Linked DNA regions of Homo sapiens. The protein of the gene in region 7 interacts with the protein of the main gene of each other region in a pairwise test. Each region holds a gene or a part of one and is shown on either strand. Other genes may lie near its edges. The genes, in order: ANKRD46, PTPN1, AGR3, PIGF, SERP2, ARL6IP6 and TIMMDC1.

Region 1 (3,500 bases), on a different chromosome or scaffold from region 7:
TAATTCACATCCCATAATATTTACCTTTTGAAACTGTACAATTCAGTGGCTTTTCATATATTCCCCAAATTGTACAACCATCTCTTCTAATTCCAGTACACTTTCAGCACCTCTATAAGAAACTCTGTACCTATTAGCAGTCACTCCCATTGCCCCTTCTCCCAGCTTCTAGTCTACTTTCTCATCTACTTTCTGTCTCTATGGATTTGCTTATTCTGGACATTTCACATAAACAGAATCATGTAATATGTGGCCTTTTGTGCCTGGCTTCTCCAATGTAGCATGTTTTCAAAATTTATCCATGCTGTAGCATGTATCAGTATAATATAATAATATTAGTAATATTCCATTGGATGAACAGATGATGTTTATTCCTTCATCAGCTGATGGATATCTGGGTGGTATCAATGTTTTGGCTATTATGAATAATGCTGCTATGAACATTCATATATAAGTTTTGTGTGGACATATGTTTCAATTTTCTTTGGTATATTCCTAGAAGTGGCACTGCTGGTCAGATGGTAACTCTACGTGTAGCTTTTTGAAGGACTGCCAGACTTTTCCAAAGAAGCTGCTCTACTTTCCATTCCCATCAGCAGTGTATGAGGGTTCCAATTTCTCCACATCCTCCAGAGCACTTGTTATTATCTATCTTTTTAATTGCAGCTATCCTAGTGGGTGTGAAGTGGCATTTCACTATGGTCCTCATTTGCATTTTCCTAATGACATTACCTTTCAACTTTCTGATTTAAGCTTCAACCACTGAATTTCTACCATGACACTGAGGGGTAGGAGTAAGATAGGAAAACTAGGTAATAAAAGTGTTAATAACTCAATTTTTGAAAAACGAGCTTTATACAGTGTTACAATTAATACAAACTCTCATGCTGCAGTGAAATGGCAGGTATGTGAAGGAAGCAGGAGTACTTCCACTGCTCATCCAATGGAATATTATTTTGTACTTATCACTTCTTAGTAAGTAATCACAACTGAGGCAAACTAATGCTAAAAGTATATTTCTAATAAAAGGGTGCCAAGAAACTGGCTATTAACAAAATAAAGATCCTAAAAATATACCAAACAAGAACACATTCTTGGTTGTTTTTCATGGTAAAGAAGCTTAAAGTACTTAATGTTATTTCATAAAAAGATAAAAATAAATTTCAAGTTATCTTAGAGGAAAAAATCTTTAACAAATAATAGTTAACTCAATATTGTTAAAGTGCTTATGCCATTCTGTCAATCCAAAGTACAGAGGAGAGAAAAACAAGGGCTTGCAAATACATCTCTGACTTCTTGATTATCTATTTGTCAGCTTTCAGTGATCACTCAAGAGGAGTATGCACTGTTCCAGAAGTAAAGCTCTTGGATTTCTTTAGGACTGTATTAAAGTGCTTGAAAGTATCTGAACAAAATAGACCTAAGCTTGAGAGTGGAATTAATGGTCCCCAAAGAGCACATCATCTGGCACACGAGAGGAGGAAAGCAAAAATGGGTACAAAGGAATCAAATGAAGGGTAAGCTATGAAAAACAGAGAGGATTTCATTTAGAACTCACAGAAACAATGATCCCAATGGTCTAAGTGGATTATGTGATTCTAAATCCAAGTCCTAGTCCATCAGCTACTAGGTAAACAGCTGATGTGGGCCCTTGCTTATTCTATTTACAACCTACCGAGAATACTGGGAAGAGGCTATGGAAGCTCAGCATCCTTTTTCCTTCACACGTATAATGTGGAAGGCTGAAACTGCATGGTGGTCAACCAGATAATATGCTACTAGAACTAAGTCTGGCCTATTAACTTTACCTGTTGAGCCCAGTGACATCAGGAGAAAAGATGGTGCGCCACCTTTTTGGAGCTCTCTGAACTGCATTCTCCATTGCTTCTAGATGAGAAATGATGAGCTATTCAAGACCCTGTCAGTTACCACATCTTAGCTTCGATTACTCACAGGAATCCAAATTTCATTAGCTCCAACTCATATGAAAGTCACTTTCACTTTCACATTACTGAACTGTGCATGTGTTAAATACTATCTTGCTTTCCCTCTCTTGTTTTCTTGTTTCTCAGCATTCCACTTCCCTACCCTTGAAACTACCTTTCAGTCTTTTCTAAAATTGCCCAAGTTCTTGGCTTTACTTATACTTCTCTTTTTTTTGAAATTCCATTCTTTTTGTGACCTGTACTTAAAATCATCAAGCTCCGGCTTCCTCCCCTCAGATTCATTTGTTACTATTTCTCCTTTGTACTGTCAATACAGCAGGTGGCTAACAGAACATTATGCGCACATGACATGTAGTACTTTCTGTTAATAGCTTCTCAATTGTAATCTGCAGTCATAAGGTCCTATATAAAGTTCAAGTTGCACTTAAAAGCAAATGAATATTAAAGTTCACAAAGTTAACCATAAATCCACATACTTAAAGTGACTTTCCCCTTAAAAAATCGTATTATCTTGCTGGGTGTGGCTACATGTGCCTATAGTCCCAGCTAGTCAGGAGGCTGAGGCAGGAAGAATGCTTGAGCCCAGGAGTTCAAGGAATGAGTAATACAGTGAGAAAAAAAAAGTTGTATCTCCAGTACCTTTCACTCTCAGCTGTTTGCATGGTCTCCAGTTTCGAGTGGGTTCCTCTGTTAAATCCTTTCACCTCCTGTTCTTCCAAAGATTCCAGCAATCGGATGACATCTTTATTTACTCCTCTGCGCTTTGCCAGAACTAAAGGGGTAGCACCTTGATGATTGCTAAAAAAAAAAAAAAAAAAAAAAGTTTATAAAAATAAAGAAGCCATCATAGCAGTTATACTACATTGTCAGTTCCATTTTTAGTACCCACTTATATAGATCTCAGTGAAGAAAGAATGGGCCCAATTAGGGCCTACCCTAGGGCTGTGGGGAACTAAAGGAGTATTTGGCTCACTACAACTCTTCCACCATGAGCCTTGACCATCTGGCTGCAATCAGATGTTGACTGATGGGATTTTTGCACAGTTCATCACAGAGGCCGTTATCCTGTTAACCAAACACGTCCCCCACCTCCAGACCCCATCCTCACACTGAATGTCTCCTCAACAGCAGATTATGGTAGAAGTAATAGCCGTGTGCCTCTATTTTTTTCTGAATTGTACTATAGAAAGTGTTTATGAAGAACAAATCACCAAGGGGAAAAAAAGGATGGGTCCAGTTTAACTCAAAAGTAAAACCCAGAGCTGAGCCAAACATCCAGTGTAGCTGAATTTTGAATTAACCCTTGTTTTTCTTTTTTTTTTTTTTTTTACTTCCAGGGAAAAGAAAAAAGAGAACATATAGTCAAAAAAGTGGATAAATCTAGTTCTAGATTCATTCTTATTTGATATTTACATTTTATGAGACAAGTACTTTTTTTAAAAAAGTCTAAGAAAAAAATGTCAAATAAGCTGCTTCGGTTCACGCAGCTATTTAGCGCTAATAATAGGTTAGAACCCCAATCACATTAAATCCTGCAGTCAATTCCTACCCCAT
Region 2 (3,500 bases), on a different chromosome or scaffold from region 7:
ACCATTGAAGCAATTCTGCCACTTGGCATGGAGGCGCTAATTACATGGCAAGACCCCCACTTAGCCAAAGTGGGTGTGGCAGCTAAAAGCAGGAACTTAGAAGAATGTGAAAAGATGAATTAATCCCACACTTCTAACAACTAGATCTTATAATGCCTCAAGACCCCAGAAACAAGAGACTGATCTGACAGGTTCCACCCCACCCGTGCTGGGGTGGGCATTCCACAGAGTGAGCAGACAGAGAAGGAAGCGAAGAACAGAAATGCAGGAGGAAGAGGCCACCCTTCCTCATCTCATAAGCAGGGCAGACGAGTCTTAAAGCTCACCTCCAGACAGCAAGCACTCACTTTCAAAACCAAACCTAATGCTTAATAACCCTCTGTAATCTGGGTAAAGACTAAGACTTTGGAACTGTACAAGTGAGGAATTCTGTCATGCAACTAAGTGTCAATAACCCAATATTTATTTTTAAGGACTCTCAGGTGTCTACAGCAACAAGCTATGCTCTGTCATTTCCAATAGAAATTTTTGTTTTAAACACACAAAATTTTTAAAAGGCACAAGATCACATTTCCAGTTACCCTATTACATTGATATATACGGCCATGAAAAGTAGATGGATTTTTATTAGAACACAGTACTTCACCAGGCCTCAAATTGAGTCCTATCTTGGGCTGGTACCAGAGGAACATGGCAGTGCCAACATGCTAGCATCTCTCATAGTTGCTGTTTCCACCATGAAGGCAGATGTTAAACAGTCCTTGGGGCCTTCCCAAACAAGTGGGCAAGTGGTGTTTGGAAAACCTATGAAAGACATCTACAGTAACCCTGTGACGGGTAATTTGGTTTCGCCAAAAATTATTAACACAGAGAACTAAGTAAGTAATTCTTAACACAGAGAACTAAGTACGAGAGAAAAATGAATTATATGGACCCTGTGATACAAAATGCAGTGTCTTGTGCATGAAAGCACCTGAAAGCAAACGGCAGCTTTAGTGAGGATTTCAGGAGGGAGATACGGGTGAGATTCTGCAATGGCCAATTAAACTCACCTTGCTTACTTCCCCCTTCTAAACAACAATCCCAACCCTTACGCCATGGTGCAGCCTACACTGAGGTGTCTAAAGTCAATCCTTAAACAGAACCAGTGAGAACTCTAGCCATCTGGATGACCCCAGTCTAACACACACAATCATCTTCTGCATAACTGGTTTCCAGGAAGCCCAGGGTCCCAAAAGATAACAGGCATGTTTGCCAAAAATAAGAGGGAGCATCCTACACTATTTGGTGAAGGAAGGAAATCAGAAGACAAGTATGCATTAAATGAAAACTCCCCAAAAGCTGGTTTTACCACAAGCTGTGTGGATCATTTATAATTAGATTAGCTGAGCAAATAAGATACTGTAACTTCTCATGATTTCTCCCAGCCAGCCCTCTGGGAGGGATAATGCTGATACAGAATTGAAAATGTTGATCCCAAAGAAACTTTAACAATCTCAAACCATACATTGCTTTTCATGCCAATCTGCACGCCCAAGTAATCCTCCAGTGGAATGGGATACTTAACAAAGGAAAGCAGGGACTGCTGGCACAGTTATCACAGTAAACTACAGCAAAGCCAACCAGCCATGTTCTCGATGCCACCACAGTAACCCAAAGGGAAAGGTTGTCACAGTGGATCTGTGGGCCATTTGTGGTCAGTCTTGAGTGGGAGACAATGAAGCACAGGGCCTGGTGAGGCTGGAACACATAACTACAGCACTGGACACTGCTCAAATACATAACTACAGCGCTGGACACCACTCCTTGCTGTAATGTGACAACAATTGCTAAAGCAAACCTTGTGCTCACAGCAAAGAGGTTTTGCCAAACACTTAGCAACAAAGAAATAAATAAGAAGCAAATGCTACTATATCTGGTAATTTCTGAATAAATGTCTTGATTTAAAATTCCCAACCCTCAATACCATCTAGAGCGGTGGTTCTCAACCGGGGGCAATTTGGCCTACCAGGGGACGTTGGACAAAGTCTGGAGTCTAGACAGAAACACATCTGACTGCCACATCTGGGGAGGGGGTGCTACTGGCATCTGGTGGATAGAGGCCAGAGATGCTGCTAAACTTCCTACAGCGCCCAGCACAGCCACTCCCTGCCCGGATCCCTAGCAGACAATGATCCAGCCCAAGTGTCAGTAGTGCTGAGGGTCAGAAGCCTGCAGATGGAGCTATGCTGAAGGCTTCCACAGGCCACCAGGCTTCCCCTTCCCTCTAAGACAGTGTGTGCTGTGAGCACCTGATGCTTTGTTTCTTTACTCAAAATTGCTGACTAGTGGTGAAGGGTGGGGGTTTGCTTCACATTTGTAACTTCACATTTTACTAATCAAGCTACTAAGGAGGGAAGAAAAAATTTAAAAACCACCTTTCACTGAAAAAGTTTTTTTCTAAGACAAGATACATTATATCATCAACAGAACACTTAGGCAAGCTCCCTGTCTGTTATTGTTGGGCAAATAAACACTTTCATTTTTTAAAAAGTAGGCAAGGGTAAAAAACCCCCAAAAAACCCCAACCCCAAAACAAAACAAACCAAACCCCTATGATTTTAAACACGCGCTGTCCTAAGAGGAAGACTTTCTGCGAGTAACTAAAGCCGTTTCTTTGTGTGTGGTGGAGGCAGAGGCTTCGTGGTTAATGCTTCAAGTTTTCACTGCTGAAGTTTCCTTTGATGTGTTCCTTCTTAACACTTGGATTTTTTACATTCTAGGGCCATGACTGTGCTTTTTTTGGAAAGGTGGCCTCTCTGGAGCCCTCACCTTCTTCTGTGGCCGGAGGCAACCAGGACAGCTGTGAGAGCCGTGTCCTAGCTGAGCCTGGACCTGGCAAGGCCCAAGGACACCCAGTTCCCTGCTCCTGGGCCACACGCTCCTGCTGGTCTCCACGATCCTCAGCCCATCTCCTCCTGGACCCCGCAGCAGGGTTGGCAGTGTTGGGGAGCAGCGAGGGCAGGGAGGCCGAGGAGCCTGTGGCCCTGCTGAACACTGGCCTGCGCCTGCACAGGCAGATGGTCTAAATGGGATGGTCTACACAGGATGGTCTACACAGACAATCTACACAGGACGGTCTACAGAGACAGTCTACACAGGACAGTCTATACACGACGGTCTACAGAGACAGTCTACACAGGACAGTCTATACACGACGGTCTACAGAGACAGTCTACACAGACAATCTACACAGGACAGTCTACACAGGACAGTCTACACAGACAATCTACACAGGACAGTTTACATGGACAGTCTACACAGGACAGTCTACACAGACAATCTACACAGGACAGTCTACACAGACAATCTACACAGGACAGTCTACACAGGACAGTCTACACAGGAGGCCGGCTGCCCAGAAATCGGCTATTCTCAGCTATTCCAACAGAGTGAGGAGGGCAGGGGAGAATGCAGGCAGTTGGGGAGCTGGGGGCAGCCGTCCAGGGGTGCCTGCAAGT
Region 3 (3,500 bases), on a different chromosome or scaffold from region 7:
ACCATATTTTATTTATCTGTTCATCAGTTAATGATATTTGGGTTGTTTCCACTTTTTGTCTTTTATGAATAATGATGCTATGAACATACATATACAAGTTTTTCAGTGGTATATATTTTCATTTATCTTGGGTATATACCTAGGAGTGGAACTGCTGATCAAATGGTCACTCTGTATTTAGCTTTTTGAGGAGCTGCCGGGTTATTTTCTAAAGTAGATGCATCATTTTATATACTCACCAGCAACATTTTTGTTTTTTGTTTTTTTTTGCCTGATTTAAAATCTTAACATTGAAAAACATCTCTTGTTAGTTTAATGCCACATCTTAACAGGAACTCTTGCTCTCTGTAATAATCCTGAAAGATTCTCTTTCCAACTTTGGTTGAACACATGCAATATCTATACATCACATTTTGCATTAAGTAAAAGTTATTCTAAAACAGCAAGTGAGACGAGGCCTCTGCTGAATTTTCCCTCTTCTGTTGCAAATATCATTCAATGATGGAGCATTAGCAGTGGGGAAAATTTCTATTCTCTGCTCCTGCTCAATTTAGTTCCACAAACAGTAAAGGAACATCTGCTGCATAACTTACTCCACAAAGCAGTGGGAATACAAACATAGAGCAATATAATCCCTATTCTCAACAAATTGTCCATAGCTCTGTAGAAAAGCCATATTGCATTATAATGATTTTTTATTTACTCTGTTATAATCACAATAGGTCAAAGCTGTTACACAGTTTAAATGCACTTCATGGCTTCTGCTCATTACTCTAATTCTAGCCCTATCTCTATCTCTGGCTATATTTTCTTGTCTTTTGAGATTTTATTCATTTATCTAACATATATTTATTAAATATTTACTATCCGCCAATCACTGGACTAGGTACTCAGCAATTCTGATTCAAAGGAAATTGGATTTTTTTTGGATCATTCTATGTGTGTGTATTTTTTTCTCCCTGAACCTTCTTCTACCTTTTTCTAATTAATCTTCCTTTTCTCCTTACTGCCTTCTCTACTTAACTAGTGCTGCCCTGTGCTCTAAGGGGCTCCATATGCCACTCTTTATACTGTATCCAGACTTCTCCCACTCACCCCTACCTTTAATCTTCATTCATTCTGAGCCTCATTCTCTCCATTATCTCCCATGTAGCAATAGATGGTAAAAGACTTTGCCAAATATAAACCAATTCTCAATAATGGTGTTCTCAGCTAATATCAGTCATCTTCTGTGTTAAATTAGTTTCTTATCAATTGAAATAATAGAACCTTTAAGTTGTTTAAAATAGGGCATACAAATGTAATATATTTTTTCAAAACATTCAACAAGAGTTTTAAATAAATATTTAGAAGTGAGCACACAGAATGTTGATGCCTTGACGTATAGTTATCACAGTGCTGCTTAATGCAGACATGGAAAATCTTTAAGGGCAATAACTAGTTTAGTCTTTGTCACTTTAGGGCTACTGAGCTCATTGTTTTACAACAGTTATGCTTATACAGAGAGATAGAGTTATGTTTAGGAAAATATTTCAACTTTTTCATTCCTTTCTTTTGCAAAAATATGTTGACTTTCTGTATATATAGATTGTGTGTTTGTTAAACTGAAGTAGAGTTAATTAGCTTAGGTAAACATTGATGAGCACTTGGCTGGCACTCAATACATCTGTTAAGAAATGAATGTACTTGGGAAGCAAGTCAGTGTTTTAGAATTTGAAATTATATAATATATATTTATAATTATAGCATATATTTATATATAATTTATTATAATATAACACAAATGTATACTATGATATATATTATATATAATATATAGTATATATAATATATAATTTGTATGTTATAATTATATATATTTTATATATATATCAGAGGTAGGAACAGAATTATTTGTTCCCACTTGGTTATTCAAAACTAGCAGTATTACTCCAAGGCACTTGACTACTATTTGCAGTGGTAATATGAATGGAGCAAACAAATGGTCAAGTACTTTGTGGTAATACTGCTGATTTTGAATAGCTATATGGGGACAAATAATTCTGTTCCTACTTCTGTTACTTAGAGATATAGAAACTAACTTTGAGAATATTTTCTTGGCCGGGCGCGGTGGCTCACGCCTGTAATCCCAGCACTTTGGGAGGCCGAGGCGGGCGGATCACAAGGTCAGGAGATCGAGACCATCCTGGCTAACACGGTGAAACCCCGTCTCTACTAAAACTACAAAAAATTAGCCGGGCATGGTGGCGGGCGCCTGTAGTCCCAGCTACTTGGGAGGCTGAGGCAGGAGAATGGCGTGAACCCGGGAGGCAGAGCTTGCAGTGAGCCAAGATCGTGCCACTACACTCCAGCCTGGGTGACAGAGCAAGACTCCGTCTCAAAAAAAAAAAAAAAGAGAGAATTTTTTTTAATAAAATGTTTCTTTACAGATGAATATATATTTGTTTCTTGGGCCAAGTAAAACAGTAAGTACAAAAAGAAATGTTTCTAAACATGTAGCCACCGGCAATCCTTGATTATGTCTAAAACCACTGTCTTCCAGAGTCAATATAGCAAAGACTTAGTTACCCCGAATTCTCAGAGTTTGGGGTATAGTATAATTTTCTGGGAAGGCTTATATAAAATTATTCCAATTTTTTTTTTTTTGGAGGACTGGGAAATAGAGGACTGGGAATTTGAGCAAATTTTGAGGAATCTTAAATTGCTATTAGGACACCAATATGACGCAGCAATCAATCATTATTTTCTAGGACTCTGGTTACCAAAGTTATAGACAGCGAGCCAATTCTCCATTATTTTGGCAAAAGATAATGCAAATTTATGTTATTGTTTGCTAGTTGATTTGATTCACTGCCTAAAATAAACTGATTCCTTCTGTTTTAAAAAATCCATTTTGAAGTCACACACAACAAAAATCATTCAGTTAGTTGAATTTGCTTTATAATTAGACTATGAGTGAAGACACCAGATATTTTAAAAAGCAATCCAAATGACTGAGTTTAGAAAATAAAATGAGATTACAGCACCTCTTGAGAGTGTCTGAGGAGGCCTCTTTTCCTTTTTTATTGCAATGGCAAGGTTGGAAGAAACTGTGACGAGTAAGAGGCAGAGACCCAAAGCTGAGTGTAGCATCATGTCTTCTAGAGACTCTCTCAGAAGAAGCTAGATGACAGAAAGGAATTCTCAGAATCCAGTGAATTACTTCAAGCTATTATTAGAAGATATTTGCTAAGAGTTGGACCAATACTGTGATGACAGACTGTTCAGCTTTTTTGGTTTGACATGGTATAACCAACCACATAGAACTTTCATTCACATTTTATTTTTAAAATACTTAATCAACTCAGTACATGCTCAGTTGGTGAGAAGTCATGTTCTGAGCCTCCTGGGCATGGTGCTGTATAATTAAAAAAGAGCTGGATCAGGGCACACGAAGCCTGCTTCTGAACCGCCCTGTAGTGTTCACACCAACAAGACGAAACTCAAATAAGATCATGTTG
Region 4 (3,500 bases), on a different chromosome or scaffold from region 7:
CCAGATATTCCTGTTTCTCTGACTGGAATATAAATAAAACCAGAACACAATCCAGAAAAGCTTGCTTTACCACAAGCAGATCAAATCGGTATTGGGCTACAAGGAACACAGAACAAGAATCTCTTAATACATGTTCTATTTTAGATAATAAAGTGTATACTGTATTGTCTTCTCATGAAATTTTGCTCTAACAACATCTCCACTTTTAGAAAATGCCATATTCCCTTATCTGATTTATTGCTTCTCTGGGAGATGCTGTTCTGTGGAGTTAGAATTATTAAAAAATAACAATAACAAAAAAACAAACAACCTTGTTTGCTGGAAATAAAAAGTGAAAAAAAAACCTCATTTCTTTAGTTTATTAGTAAATAACTGCTAAAAGGGCAAGGAGCAGATGAGTGCTATATGAATAAAAGATTTTTAATTATACATCAATTCTATCATTCCCTCAACAATACATTTCATAATTTAAAAGGTTTACAGTGAATACGTGGGTCATTAACTTGGAATATTCTAAAAACAACCCAATAGTAAAGATAATTACATGGCCAGTAATATTCCAGCTGAATGAAACACTCTTAATGGAAACCAACACTTGTTATGTATTTAAATTAGATTTAAAATTAAATTAATTTCCAGCTACCTAGAAAATCTTTTTAAAAAGTCAGTAATTCAAATGGAAACTTTACATTAATTTAAAAAGTAATACCATCAATTTGGATCTAGTTCATCCTTATTGTTAACAAGCACTGAGGGAGAAAAATGGGTCATCAGCTAAAAGCCTGAACAATCCCAAAATGGGTGACTGAACTGTAAATAATTAAGATATATATTTTCTAAGCAAACCTAAACACATATTTTATAAAGCACATATATTCATTCCTCTTAGTTCAGTTTCTACTACTGCACTGTCTTGTAAACAGAAAAGACTTAAATTATGTGTAATATATCAAACCTTTACACTCTAATGTATTGCATCATATACAAAATGATTATTATATCTTACCAACTCATTAAAGCTAATGTCCCATAGTACTTTATTTATCAATACTTTCTATTTAGATTTAATTGCATTACTTGATAGCAATGAATCTACACAGTTTCAATTTTCTGTGTATACTTTTCAATGATTTTGATTGTCCTCCAATTTAGAAATCACTGACACTCTGTTGAATGACATCAAGTATGGATGACTTCTATAAGATGTCAACTTAAGAAACCTTTACTAGCACCAAAAACTTGAGATGGGAATCTGTGACGATACACACACCAAACCTCCAAGGATTTCTCTAATATAGTGATGAAGAGTTAAAACAGGGAAGGGCAAACCTATCAGACCTATTAAACATGAAACAACAATTTGACTTTCGGGGAGACACGACATCTAACTGAAAGCACAAAGAATAGAGCTAAATGTAGGCAGTTATGTGCAAGGCACACAATCTGGATCCCACATTTGGCAAATGAGGTATGTATCAAAGATTTAATTCATCAATTCATTAGGTAGGACTCTACCCTACAGAGAAAATTGGACAAATATGCAAAGATGTATAAGTATGATAATGACCATATTTGATAATAAAATAATAATAGTAAAATAGGAAATGACCTAAATGTTCTTTAATAAAAAACTGGTACAATATTTTACACAAATAATCGAATATTACATATATGTAAGTTTTCATTGACATAGAATGAGCTCCATAATATACTGCTGAGGGGAAAAAGCAGATTAAAAACAACATGAATATTATAGTTACAGGCATGGAGAGAGACAGCTGCAAAAATTATCACCAAAAGCAAATGGAGGTTTCCTCTGGGTGGTTGGGGAGGAAAGTAATTTTTACTTTCTTCCTTAGAATTACTAATATTGCTTTAATTTTCTAAATAAATATACATTATCTTCGTGATCAGAAAAAAATTATCTTCATGTTGGAAAAAGAAAGCACATTTATTTTTTAATACCATAATTCTTTTTGGGAGTAATTACTCTGTGAACCTAATTAGAAAAATTCAAGAAGCTATAGATTCAAAGATTTTATCACAGCAGTGTTTATTATCACAAAATACTGGCAATAATCTAAATGATCAATAGTGAATTTGTTAAATAAGTTATAAAGTATATAATGGCATACTACAAAGTCATTAATATTAAGATAAAGATACAGTCATCACTGTAAGTTCAGTGACCTTGGGAATGTTACATACCCTCTAGGTGTCAGTTTCCTCATCTGTAAAATGGGTATAAAAAGAGCACTTACCTCACAGTGCTTTACCTAGCATATCAGCTTTATCTTATTGTGATACAAGACGAAAAATCTGATGTTTGTGAGCTTTCTTGATAACACAGGCCGCTGCTGCAAAAATTACCTTGCTATCTGCTTCTAAAAATTTCAAGAGGAACATTCAATTTGGCCATCAATCAAGTTCAGAAAATATGAATATAAGACCACAAGGGCAATAAATATCAAAGTTGAAAATAGGAAATTTCTGCAGCTATTAACCTAGTTTTTAAAAATTCCTATACTGGCTGGGCTCGGTGGCACACACCTGTAGTCCCAGCCACTTGGGAGGCTGAAGCAGGAAGATCGTTTAGGCCCAAGCATTAGAGGACAGCCTGGGCAAGAGAGTGAGAACCTGTCTTTTTTAAAAACAATAAACAAACCGCCTATATACAATCACAAAATAAGCTTGTTTATTCATCTACACATGTGCAAAAAATAGTGCTAGAAGATAAAACCAGGGCTACCTAGACACCTGTGGCACTGGACAGTCCCCATTAAGAAGCTGCCCAGATTACAGTGACTGATAGAAGTGGTATCCCTACTTAATTGAACAACAAAACAATTTACATATACACACTAGTTTGCTTCATCTGTTTTACTATCATTGTACAAACATTTATTTTGTTGCTTTAAGTAACTGAAACCAACCTGCCATGGTCTTTCCCAATCCAGTGGAATAGGAAGTGCTCCAAGCCATGCTCCTACAAAGCTAGAAATTGTAGTGATCTGGAGACTATTCTCCCATATGGATGTAACTCTGTGAAACACAAATTGGTACATCGTTGGTGGTATATACATGAGCTGCTGGAGAATCCAACAAGCACTAGCACACATTATCAGTATACATATATTTCCTGCTAATTTAAAATGAAAATCTCAAAATGACATATACATATTTACCATGAACTATTAATAGTTAATTGGTAAGAAGATGTAAATGTTTTCCATTGGAAAGGTAATATACAGACGCACTAGGAGTCAAACCATGTTAAAGAGCATTTGTAGAAACAGCTAAGTCTTCCACCCCTATCATCAACTCCTGGTTCCTTTCCCCACAGGCAACTGCTATTATGCTAAATTATTACATATTCTTCCAGAAATATTTTATACAGGCACAAATACACACATAATTTTGTTTTGAAGGATATATGTACATTTGCATAAATACACATGTACATATGTATATTTCTTCAAAACAAAACTCAGATGCATCAT
Region 5 (3,500 bases), on a different chromosome or scaffold from region 7:
GTAGTAACTTCTCCAGAATGAAGGGGGAATTTAAATTTCAGAGTTCTGAGTTACCCTACGGGTATCTTAATCACAGGGAAAGCCATTCCCTGACATTTTTGGAGCCTCAAGAAGTAGCAAACTCATGTTTGGAGTAAACCATGTCATTTGCAGAATCACTACTAGTTTTCCCCACCTTTTCCAGCCATAGAGTAAGGTTTATGTGAATTGTCCCAATGGGATTGTGCTGGGCACCCCTTCTAAAAAGTAGTCACCCAAAGCTGTCAAAAAAAAGATATATGGGTACTATGATCAGCCAAAGTCCCCAAATCATGTTGATTCCATGGAGAATGTCATCCAAAAGGTTTTTGTGTTATATGGTCCAAGCTCTACATGCTGATCATCTGTTTTTTCTGCATATGAAAAATAAAGGACTCTATTTGGTATCTGTCCTGGGCAAGTAATTCATTACAGGCTTCTGAATTCACTTATTAGCTTTGCTGGAAATAGAGATAAAATGAATTTTTTTATATAGCATCAGTGGCACAACAGCAACAGAACTGGTTTCTGGGCAACTGTGACAAGTTCCTGGGAAGGTGGTGGAAGAGGGTGGGAAGGGCGAATGTCACACTTTGTTCAGGTAGCTTTATGAATGTTGTTTACCGGATCTGAACTTGGCCTGGCCTTAAGGGCCAAAAAATGGCACAGTTATCTTATGCAATTATTTAAGACTGATCTTGTCCTCGTCTGATTAAGAGCAGCCACCGATTCCTTTGCAGTGTGACTTGCCGGCATGTAAGTGGTGGTAGATACAGGCTTAGTCAAGGACAGAGAAGTGAATGTCTTAATCCTTAGTCAAAGTCTACCTGCCGTTGACACTTTAATCCATATTTCTCATGTAGGAGAGATACAGGGATAATCCTACACCAATTAGGAATTATTACTAAAAAGACAATATCCTTCCTAGAACCTGTGTTTACTCTGCCTAACCTAAGAAATCTTATTTAATGAAACTTGTATGTTTATTTGTTCTTTGATGAACGTTTATTATCTCCTATGTTTAAGTTCTGTGGCAGGCATTTCTATATATTACTACATGAACAAGACATAGTCCCTGCCCTTGTGGGGTCTGTAGTCTCATAGAGAGACAGATATTAAACACATTAATTATCACAAGAATAAATATAGACCTACAAACTGTGACACATGCTATCAAGAAAAAGTATGTGGCCATACAAGTGACGAGTGGACCCAAGTGAGGTAAAAGAGAAGGGCTCTTTGGTAAGCTGAAAACTAAAGAACTGTTGCCTTATCTATGATAAAATAAATTCCTTTTTTAGATGAGAAGCCAGTTTACATTTACATTAGCCTAGAACTTAATTTTACATATAAATACAACACATCATAGATTTTACAGTTTTAATATATGATAAATTTTCTAGGAAAGCAACTACAGTGAAAATCAAAGGAAGATTATCCTTTTTTAAAGAAGTTTTTGTTAGAAACATTACTAAAACTTGTTCAACATTTCAAAAACTTACATCCTTGATGATAGCACCACTCGTTTTTTTTGAAACACTATTACATACCTTCAGTCTGAATGTCAAGCTGTGGTATTTGTATGGATATGAACATACCTTTTAGCCCATATTTTACAATGTTGAATACAATGTTTAAATGTCAACAACATTTAATTGAAATCTGGAATTGGGTTTTATGAGATCAACCACAAATCAATACTTGTGAACATTCCACTCTACCAACACGTTTTTCTTTGTGTGTTTTGCATGTGAATTCTTTAACGTGTGTTGAATGCAGCCTATTTTTCAAGCTAATCAGAAAATAATTAGTGAGTTCTTTGTTGTTGTTTTTTTTTTCACTCTCCCATTCTATTTGAGAAATTCACTTCTTTTCTGATGCATCTCTCAGAAAATATTTGTTGTTCTGACTGATTTGGGTTTAAGGACCAAGCCCTACCTGCACATAGACCTGGAGGTGTTGTGGAGGGAAGATCTTATTATGTCTGTGCTTTTGGTTTGAAAAAGCAGGAGGTCTGTAGGGCTTCATTCATGCAGTTTTGACAGTCCCCTTCTGCTTCCCAGAGAATTCAGAGACTTCTCCCAAGTGCAAGCTTTATTAAGGCTTAGGAGCTTTATTACAAAATGCTGCTTCACTCATAACCATTCACAATTGCTGTGGTGCTTCTGTTGTTGCAAGGATTTCCACTGTACTGACTTCCTAATTTGGGGTTATGTAAAAGGTTTTCAGAAAATGTCTGTGCTCTCTGATCCTGCTTGGAATTCACAGATGCAAAAACTAAATATTGAATCTGTTAATGGAAAATACTCAGGCTTTATAATGAGGCAGACCTAAATTTGAATCCCAGCTCTTGCTCAAGTTAACAAACTTTGAGCCTCAGTTTCTCAACTCCAAAATGGAAATAATAATACTTGCCAGAAATAATGAATGCAGACTGCCTAGTGTAGTGCCTGGCACAGAGCATTACTCAGCAGATGGAAAGTTATTATTAATATCATTTTGGTTCCTAAATCGCCATATTGGTTTATGTATTCATACCATATCTGTCCCCAGAATATTTAAGACCACCAAGTTCACTGAGTTACAGGGATGTTAATAAGGTTATGGATGAATTTTTACAAACCTGTCTCAATCCTTTTAATGGACTTCATTCATCTATATCTGTCCACTGAGGGATTGAAACCAAGTCTGTCTCATTCGCAGTAGAATCCCCAGCACCTAGCACAATGCCTAGTGATACTCAAATAATTGTTTATTGAGTCAATGAACCTAATCTTACTTTTTCCCATTCCCTTTTAGAGGCCGCAAGAGGAGAAATATCCTGTGGGACCATGGCTGTTGGCACTGTTTGTTTTTGTTGTCTGTGGCTCAGGTATGGGTGTTTCACTGAACTTATATCCCATGTTCTCCACTGGCCTTTGAAAAACACACGTTTTCTTCACAAAGCAAATAGATGAAAAACATACTGGTATGGGATTCAAGTTTATCACTGCCTTAAGCCTTAATCTTAATGGGTTTTGATTTAGTTTCTATTCCAAATATAGGTAGAGACACAATTAATACACTATCAAATCCTAATCATAAAATGATTACACTGAGTAGTTAAAGTGGCTGTATACACTGTAGAGTTCAGTAAAGTCTTTTTGTGCAGACATAGCCTTAAAAGGGCATTAGAACAGAAGGTGAAACACCTGTGTGCCTGTGATAAATCCACATTCCGAGAAAGGGAGAGGCCTTATGCCTTATGAGAAAGTTCTGCAGAGCTCCTAGATACAACTTCCTAGATACAACTGAGCCTTTGACCCAAGCCTTAAGGTATGGGTCACCTGATACTGTAAGGTGGCAAGTTGAGAGCTTTACTTACACACATGCAGATACACACATACACACAAATGCAGGGAAGATGAGCAGAAGCATCGTGCCATTGTTTCTAGTTACATGCTGAACTAGCCTTGACATGGTTCCTGATCCCCATATGTTGG
Region 6 (3,500 bases), on a different chromosome or scaffold from region 7:
CCCTAAGAAAGAATAAGTCATGAAATTTCAATCCTTACAAACAGAACTGCTCGAAATAATTCAGAAATGAAAAATGGTCCAATGAGCCCTGATTGTACAGTGTACACTGACACATACAGCCAATTAAGTTACTTCGATTCAGTAGATAATTATAGGGTCTAAGATTCCGTAAAAGCAAAAAAAGAAAATCTCCAGGGTCTTCGTTTTTTTGCTTTTTTTTTTATGTCAGGTTTGGGAACTACTAGGCCAGTGGTGTTCAAAGTATATATAGCCCCCTAACTAGCAGCATGCAGAGCATCAACTCAAAACTTGTCAAAAATGAAAATTCTTGGGCTCCATCTCACACTACTGAGTCAGATATTCTGCACCATGTGAAGAGCAGCAAAATTTATCTTTCAGGTGATTCTGATGCCAGCTAACTTTTGACTTCATTAGCCTAAGAAACGTCCCTCCCAACCACCAAAGTTGGACTACAGAGTACCACACAATGTCAACTCAATTTATTGAGATTTAGGGGTCCTAATGTCTGGTTCTTATTACTGCTTTTATGTGTTAAGAAGAGTCCTGTAATAATTTCATGACTAATAATTTAGCTGCACATGGCTAATTCTTGCTGATAACCCATTCTTTTTCTGCCTTGCTATACTACCTAGACTATCTATGGTATAAAAATTATAATACATACTTTCTTGAGTTTTGGTTTAGAAGAAAATAACATTGATGGATACAGTGTAGTTGAGAATACTAGAGGAAATAACACACAAATTAATGGCTTTTGGCATATTGTAAAAGTGCAATAAATGGTGTTATTGTTAATTACTGAAACATTATTCTCTAAACTTAAATTTGTGCTTTCCCTTAAAGTTTTTCTTATTGCAAGTTACACTTATACATTGTAGAAAATAAAAATAATAAATACAACCAATCAATTCGGAAACCCAGATAAACTAACATTTTGATTATATCCTTCCAGTCCTTTTTGGCTTTCTCTCTTTTTTTTTTTTTTTTTTGGCCTTAGTCATCATTTCTTGAATAATACAAATAGGTAAGACAATTTTACAAAAATTGTGCTATAGAATAGGATATTTGTGACTTTTTAGATGAAATATTAGAGCTACCCCACCCAGCCACAGATAGCACTGTAACACTTTCTTAATAGAGTATAGGTTCAAATTATAAAGTCCACACACTGGCTAAAAAGTTCAAGTTCAGAGTTTCAATCAATTTTCATTGTAAGGATGAAACTGAGTTTTACTCAACTTGTGTCTTTTTAAGAGAATGGGCCACCTCCCACACATCCTTTCTCTTGGACTTTTTTTAACACTTCTAATGTTCTGTATCACGAAATCATGATGGCCAAAACAAAATCTACAGGTGCTTTTAAAAAAGCAAGTCCCCAAGTGATTGTTACCCATACCAAAATGAGAATTGCTGCTATAATCTGTTCTTACTGACTGCCATGCCAATCTTGGACTAGGATTAAATTGCAATTAAATTCTGCAGTGTACAAAATTTTTGTCAGTCTGTCTAGAAAAAGAAAGAGAACTCTTTCATGGTAGAGCAGTTACTGTGCTCACGTTGCTTTTTCTAAAAACCAACCTACTTTCAAACAAAGAATGAGGAAATTTGCAGTAAATTTTAAATATGAGTCACGGAAATATTAAGATAATAGCATGTGTGGGCAATAATAAGTATGCCAAGAAATAAAGAGTAATATACAAAACAATCAAACATTATTACATTTGGCTACGAGGTTCCTAATAAACAGGGCAAAATAAATAGTGAAATATAATAAAATCGTTATCATCTGATAAAAGGCTGCATGGTACTTTTCCCAAACGTAATGGATGACTTCAACACATTTTCTTATTAAATATTTCAAATTGTTTCTTCATGTGAAAACTGTCTTATTAATTGTAAAAAGGATGTAACTTCATAGGCATCTCCTCAGGGGTAAACTAATGAGGCAATTTTTCTTGATATCTAAGTTAATCAACTCAGCGTTGATTTAGATGGAAGTCAAGTTTGAGAGAACCATCCTACCTTTTCAGCTATCAATTATCTCAAGAGGAGTTTTAACCAGAGGACAGGAGTCAATTCAAAACATTCTGTAAATAGGCTAACTTGTATTTTTCTTGAAAACAGTAGAGAATTGCAGCTTAGAAAAAAAGGCAGGTGTTGCCACAATTACCTCAATCTTTTGTTTTGTTTTGAGTTGGAGTCTTGCTCTGTTGCTGAGGATGGAATGCAGTGGCGCAATCTTGGCTCACTGCAACCTCCACCTCCCCGGTTCAAGTGATTCTCCTGCCTCAGCCTCCCGAGTAGGTGGGATTACAGGCCTGTGCCACCATGCCCAGCTAATTTTGTTTTTGTATTTTTAGTAAAGGCGGGGTTTCACCATGTTGTTCAGGCTGGTCTCGAACTCCTGACCTCAAGTGATCCACCCGCCTCGGCCTCCCAAAGTGTTGGGATTATACGTGTGAGCCACCGCGCGTGGCCGATCACCTCAATCTTATTAAGAGCTTAATCATCTTGGCCCTGTTTCACTGAAACAGATTTTTAAGAATCCTCTTCTGGTAGAGACAACTATTCTCTATCCATATGTTATAATACATACATCTGCTATAACTATTCTTTAAAATTAACCCCCAGGAAACTGATTGAATTAGCCCATTAAATGATATTAACTATTTTTATTCTCCATCTGACCACTGGAGCTCATCTGACCATTGGTTCAAAATAATGAGCTTTGTTTTGGCATAGCTGTTGGGTTTTTTTCACCATAAAGATACAACACTTTCTGCTCATTCCTGACTCTTGACAATAAATTCATGCCATTAGCAAAATCTTAATGATTTTCCTATTTGCTGTAAAAATATTAAGTATCTATCATGCATACCTAAAAGCAACATGGGATTATTTAACCCTAAGTGGAAAAGGAAGCAGGACCATGTCAAAAGACCTATCACATTCCTTTTGATATTGAGCAAGCCATTCCTTCAGATAACAACTGCCCGTCATTCTACTCCTAAATGAGAAATCAGGACAACTTTTAAACAGCAAAAGGTTTAGAATTCATGCCTAATTCATAAGATTCTGTTTCCACTGCATCAAGAGGTGACAGATCAATAAAAGCTCTGAGAAGCCTAATAATCTTGGCTTATTTCTAGAGATAAAACAATGTAAAAACATACACTGATAAAATGAGTAACTAAAAAGTATGTTTTCTCATGCAAGATGTTGACAAGAACAGACAAAAGTTTCCATGCAATATCTAAGAAACCAACTTCTTTGCAATTTGAAGATAAAGGGTTCATGTTTCCCCTTCTGCTGAAATAAGGTACACTATACTTAGTGTCACCATAAGGGTGATTAGCCATAAAGTGGTAGATTAGAGAGTTTAGGAAAGAATGGGAGAGGGGAGGACATGTGTCATAGTGTCTCAACCACCTATCTACAGTGATCAAATCAAATGATTTAATTTAAAGTGATCACATCAA
Region 7 (3,500 bases):
AGGAGTTCTTTAAGCATTTCTTATAAGGCAGTCTAGTGGTGATAAATTCCCTCAGTGTTTGCCTGTCTTGAGAAGACTATTTCTCCTTCATTTTGGAAAAATAGCTTTGCTAGGTATAATACTCTTGGCAGGAGTTTTTTGGGTTTTGTTTGTCTGTTTGTTTGTTTTTTCCTTTTAGCACTTGGAATGTATCATCCCATTCTCTCCTGACTTGTAAGGTTTCTGCTGGCAAATCTGCTGTTAAACTGATGGGGGGAGGTAAATGGTGGCAGTGGACCCTGGATGAGCCAGTCTTCAGGGGGTGCACGTGGCAGCTCAGCCACTAGAATTGGCAGGGTTGCCAGTGGTGGAAGACTCCAGGTGAATGACCTTAGAATGGCCATAGCCAGCCATTCTTAAGCTTTTCCATCTCAAAATCACTGATCTCTAAATCACTGACAAACTTCTGCAGTTTTTAATGTTTCATTTACTTTTTTAATTTTTTTTTTTTTTTGAGATGAAGTATTGCTCTGTGGCCCAGGCTGGAGTGCAGTGGCGCAATCTCAGCTCACTGCAACCTCAATGCTTTTCTTCTCATATAGCACTTAAGTCCTTGGATGATGGACCTACAGCTCTTAAGAATTTCCGTGTGTGTGTCTGTGTGTGTGTGGTTAGCAGAAATGGAGGTTTCAAATGAAAACACTGGAAAAAAATGATTTCTCATCTATCCAATTATAATACCAAAACAGCAACAGCAGCAGCAGCCAATGCTGTCTTAGGTACCCAGGAAGGTGAACTAGTGAAAATCATTTGTACTCAGGAGCACTAGATGGCAGCCTGTTATATTCATCTTACATATTGAATCTGTGCAAAGTCAGCTATCAGTCTGATTGCCCTATCCCACAAATTGCATCCCAGGAGATGATTAGATGCAATAGGTGAAAGTTTTCATGTTCCTCAGTGGCATTCAGTGCATGAACAACCATTGTCCACCTAATTCCTCTGCATCTACAGCAAGAAATAGAATTTTTGTGGAGACTTAACATGCTGTGTCTTACTTACATATGTATGCAAAAAAAAAAAAAAAAGTCACTTTTTTTCTTTTTTGAGACCGAGTCTTGCTCTGTGGCCCAGGCTGGAGCACAATCACGGCTCACTGTAACCTCCGCTACCCAGGTTCAAGTGATTCTCCTGCCTCAGCCTCCTTGAGTAGCTGGGACTACAGGCACGTGCCACCATGCCCAGCTAATTTTTGTACTTTTAGTAGAAATGGGGTTTTGCCATGTTGGCCAGGCTGGTCTCGAACTCCTGACCTCAGGTGATCCACCTGTCTTGGCCTCCCAAAGTGCTGGGATTACAGGCATGAGCCACCCTGCTAGGCTAAGGATGTCACTTTTTAAGTAAGCCAGGTAAAGCTCACTCCTTGGTGAATATTCCCTTTAGGTAATTTCCTATGCAGTTAAGAACACAGGAAAAGAAAAAACATGCAAGCAAGATTTACACCACTTTTAACTTAAAAAGATATCCAAAGAAAGATCTTCATTAAATTAAAACTAAAATCAATCTCTTTCATTTTTCCATTCTCCTTAAATAGATTAAAAGACAATGTACAGTATGAGTTGAAGGACTTGGTAAAAATAAACTCTTCTTTGAATTGAGTGGCAGTTTAGAGTACATAAGTTTAAAAGAGCACCACTATATAAGGCCTGGGGCAAGAGAGCCAAGATTCCCTGGGCTCAACATGTTCCTTACCACTCTTCCAGTTTTAGCTCATGGAGTGCCTTTCGATCCTTCTGTTTTCTTTCCTGAACAGTCTCACCAGAGTACTTCTGAAATGCCATCAGCAGGCCTCCTACAGGAGTGCTGAGAAGAAAGGAGAGGGAAAGCTTAGGAAAAACGAGTCATTAGACCTTGCAACATGTGAGATTCTCTGCTAAGGTGTGAGCAACACCAGAGCCACTTGTTCACTATTAGGTACAGGAACATTTGAGAATTAAAGTGTCCTTGTCAAATAAAGAAAAACATTGAGGTAATCTCTTCCTTGGTCTGAACAACAGACAAAAACAATCACTACAACCTCCTAAAGTTAACTGATATATAATAAAACAACAGATCTAGAAACTGGCTGTTTTTATGAGGAATGAGAAATAAATCAAAACAAAGAGGAAAAATATATATATTTATGACAAGTTCTAGTAAGTAGCCCCACACCAAAGATTTCTCAAAAATGAAATTTCTAGTTCAGAATGGCACCAGCTCCTCTAGGAGACAGGAAATGTGGAGGGCATTTCTGGTTGAGGGAGGGATGCTACTGGCTTTTGGGGGTGGGACCACCAAAATATCCTGAAGTTCAAGAGTCTGGCGTAACTGTCTCACCCACAATGCCAATAGCAACCCATTGAGAAACTGATTTAGATAATAATTATTATAGTGATGAAGAGAGTTTGGTTCTTGTGTTCTCAGACTAGAAGTATTTGACCTTCATACACCTTAAATTTCCTCCAGCTACAATTTAAGTAACCTCATACTAATAACTATTTTTGCTAAGTGGAAGCAACATAAATGTTCACTGACAGATGGTTAAAGAAAATGTAACATACACATACAATGGAGTATTATGCAGCCTTAAAAAAGAGGGCAATCCGTTCAACAGGTTACAACATAGATAAACTTCAAGGACATTATTATGCTAAGTAAATAAGCTAGTCACAAAAGGACAAATAGTGTATGATTCCACTCATATGAAGTATCTAAAGTAGTCAAAATCTTAGAAACAGAAAGTAGAAATATATTTGCTGAGGGCTGGAGGGTATGGGGAGGGGAAATTAGTTTTTAATGCATATAGTTTCATTTCTCAAGATAAAAAAGTTCTAGAGATCTCATGCACAATGTGAATATACTTAGCATTTTTGAACTATACACTTAAAATATGATTAAGATGGTGAATGTTATGCTATGTGTTTATTACCACAATAAAAAATATTTTTGTTGCTAACTCCTACAACTTTTCCCTTCAAACCAAACTGGTATATTAACACTACAACAAAAGCAATGGCAGCAGTAGATTATGACATGCTGATTTTATTTAATTCAAATTTTTAAAAAAATCATTAAATCTATAGCATTACCTTCTCCTTCAAAGGAGGTAGACAAAGGGGTGAACAGGTGGAGGACGAAGGTAGCACTCTTCTAGTCAGACAAATACCAACTAATAAAAACAGAAGAACTGACAGAACTAGCTTATCAACATTTACAACCACCTTTCTAGTAACCAACCGATTACAGCATGGGTCGTCAATGGATCATTAAAAACACATGATGAAAAGATAGCTGGAGAGCAGAATATTCAGTTTCACCCTCCAGATTACTAATTAATCACATTGGGAAAAAGATATCTTTGCAATGGAGACACTGAACAGATAACACCTTAACCAAGTGTGGTAGGCAGAATTCTAAAGTGGTCCCCCCAAATATCCTGCCTAATCCCTCAACTGTGAATATATTATGCCCATGATTATATT

Evidence for each region.
Region 1: the proteins of TIMMDC1 (region 7) and ANKRD46 interact in binary tests that used the Homo sapiens proteins (3 or more experiments, as listed by UniProt).
Region 2: the proteins of TIMMDC1 (region 7) and PTPN1 interact in binary tests that used the Homo sapiens proteins (3 or more experiments, as listed by UniProt).
Region 3: the proteins of TIMMDC1 (region 7) and AGR3 interact in binary tests that used the Homo sapiens proteins (3 or more experiments, as listed by UniProt).
Region 4: the proteins of TIMMDC1 (region 7) and PIGF interact in binary tests that used the Homo sapiens proteins (3 or more experiments, as listed by UniProt).
Region 5: the proteins of TIMMDC1 (region 7) and SERP2 interact in binary tests that used the Homo sapiens proteins (3 or more experiments, as listed by UniProt).
Region 6: the proteins of TIMMDC1 (region 7) and ARL6IP6 interact in binary tests that used the Homo sapiens proteins (3 or more experiments, as listed by UniProt).

Annotation. Positions count from the first base shown.
Region 1 is NC_000008.11:100,525,260-100,528,759, forward strand, and holds part of ANKRD46 (ankyrin repeat domain-containing protein 46), read right to left. Parts: intron 2,745-3,500; coding exon 2,586-2,744; intron 1-2,585.
Region 2 is NC_000020.11:50,569,383-50,572,882, reverse strand, and holds part of PTPN1 (tyrosine-protein phosphatase non-receptor type 1), read right to left. Parts: intron 1-3,500. UniProt on the Homo sapiens protein: Tyrosine-protein phosphatase which acts as a regulator of endoplasmic reticulum unfolded protein response. Mediates dephosphorylation of EIF2AK3/PERK; inactivating the protein kinase activity of EIF2AK3/PERK.
Region 3 is NC_000007.14:16,875,484-16,878,983, forward strand, and holds part of AGR3 (anterior gradient protein 3 precursor), read right to left. Parts: intron 3,163-3,500; 5' UTR 3,136-3,162; coding exon 3,027-3,135; intron 1-3,026. UniProt on the Homo sapiens protein: Required for calcium-mediated regulation of ciliary beat frequency and mucociliary clearance in the airway. Might be involved in the regulation of intracellular calcium in tracheal epithelial cells.
Region 4 is NC_000002.12:46,589,542-46,593,041, forward strand, and holds part of PIGF (GPI ethanolamine phosphate transferase, stabilizing subunit), read right to left. Parts: intron 3,043-3,500; coding exon 2,934-3,042; intron 2,385-2,933; coding exon of another isoform or gene 2,367-2,384; exon of another isoform or gene 1,606-2,366; intron 1-1,605.
Region 5 is NC_000013.11:44,376,824-44,380,323, forward strand, and holds part of SERP2 (stress-associated endoplasmic reticulum protein 2), read left to right. Parts: intron 1-2,817; coding exon 2,818-2,890; intron 2,891-3,500. UniProt on the Homo sapiens protein: Interacts with target proteins during their translocation into the lumen of the endoplasmic reticulum. Protects unfolded target proteins against degradation during ER stress. May facilitate glycosylation of target proteins after termination of ER stress.
Region 6 is NC_000002.12:152,721,620-152,725,119, reverse strand, and holds part of ARL6IP6 (ADP-ribosylation factor-like protein 6-interacting protein 6), read right to left. Parts: intron 1-3,500.
Region 7 is NC_000003.12:119,515,547-119,519,046, reverse strand, and holds part of TIMMDC1 (complex I assembly factor TIMMDC1, mitochondrial isoform 1 precursor), read right to left. Parts: intron 1,843-3,500; coding exon 1,732-1,842; intron 1-1,731.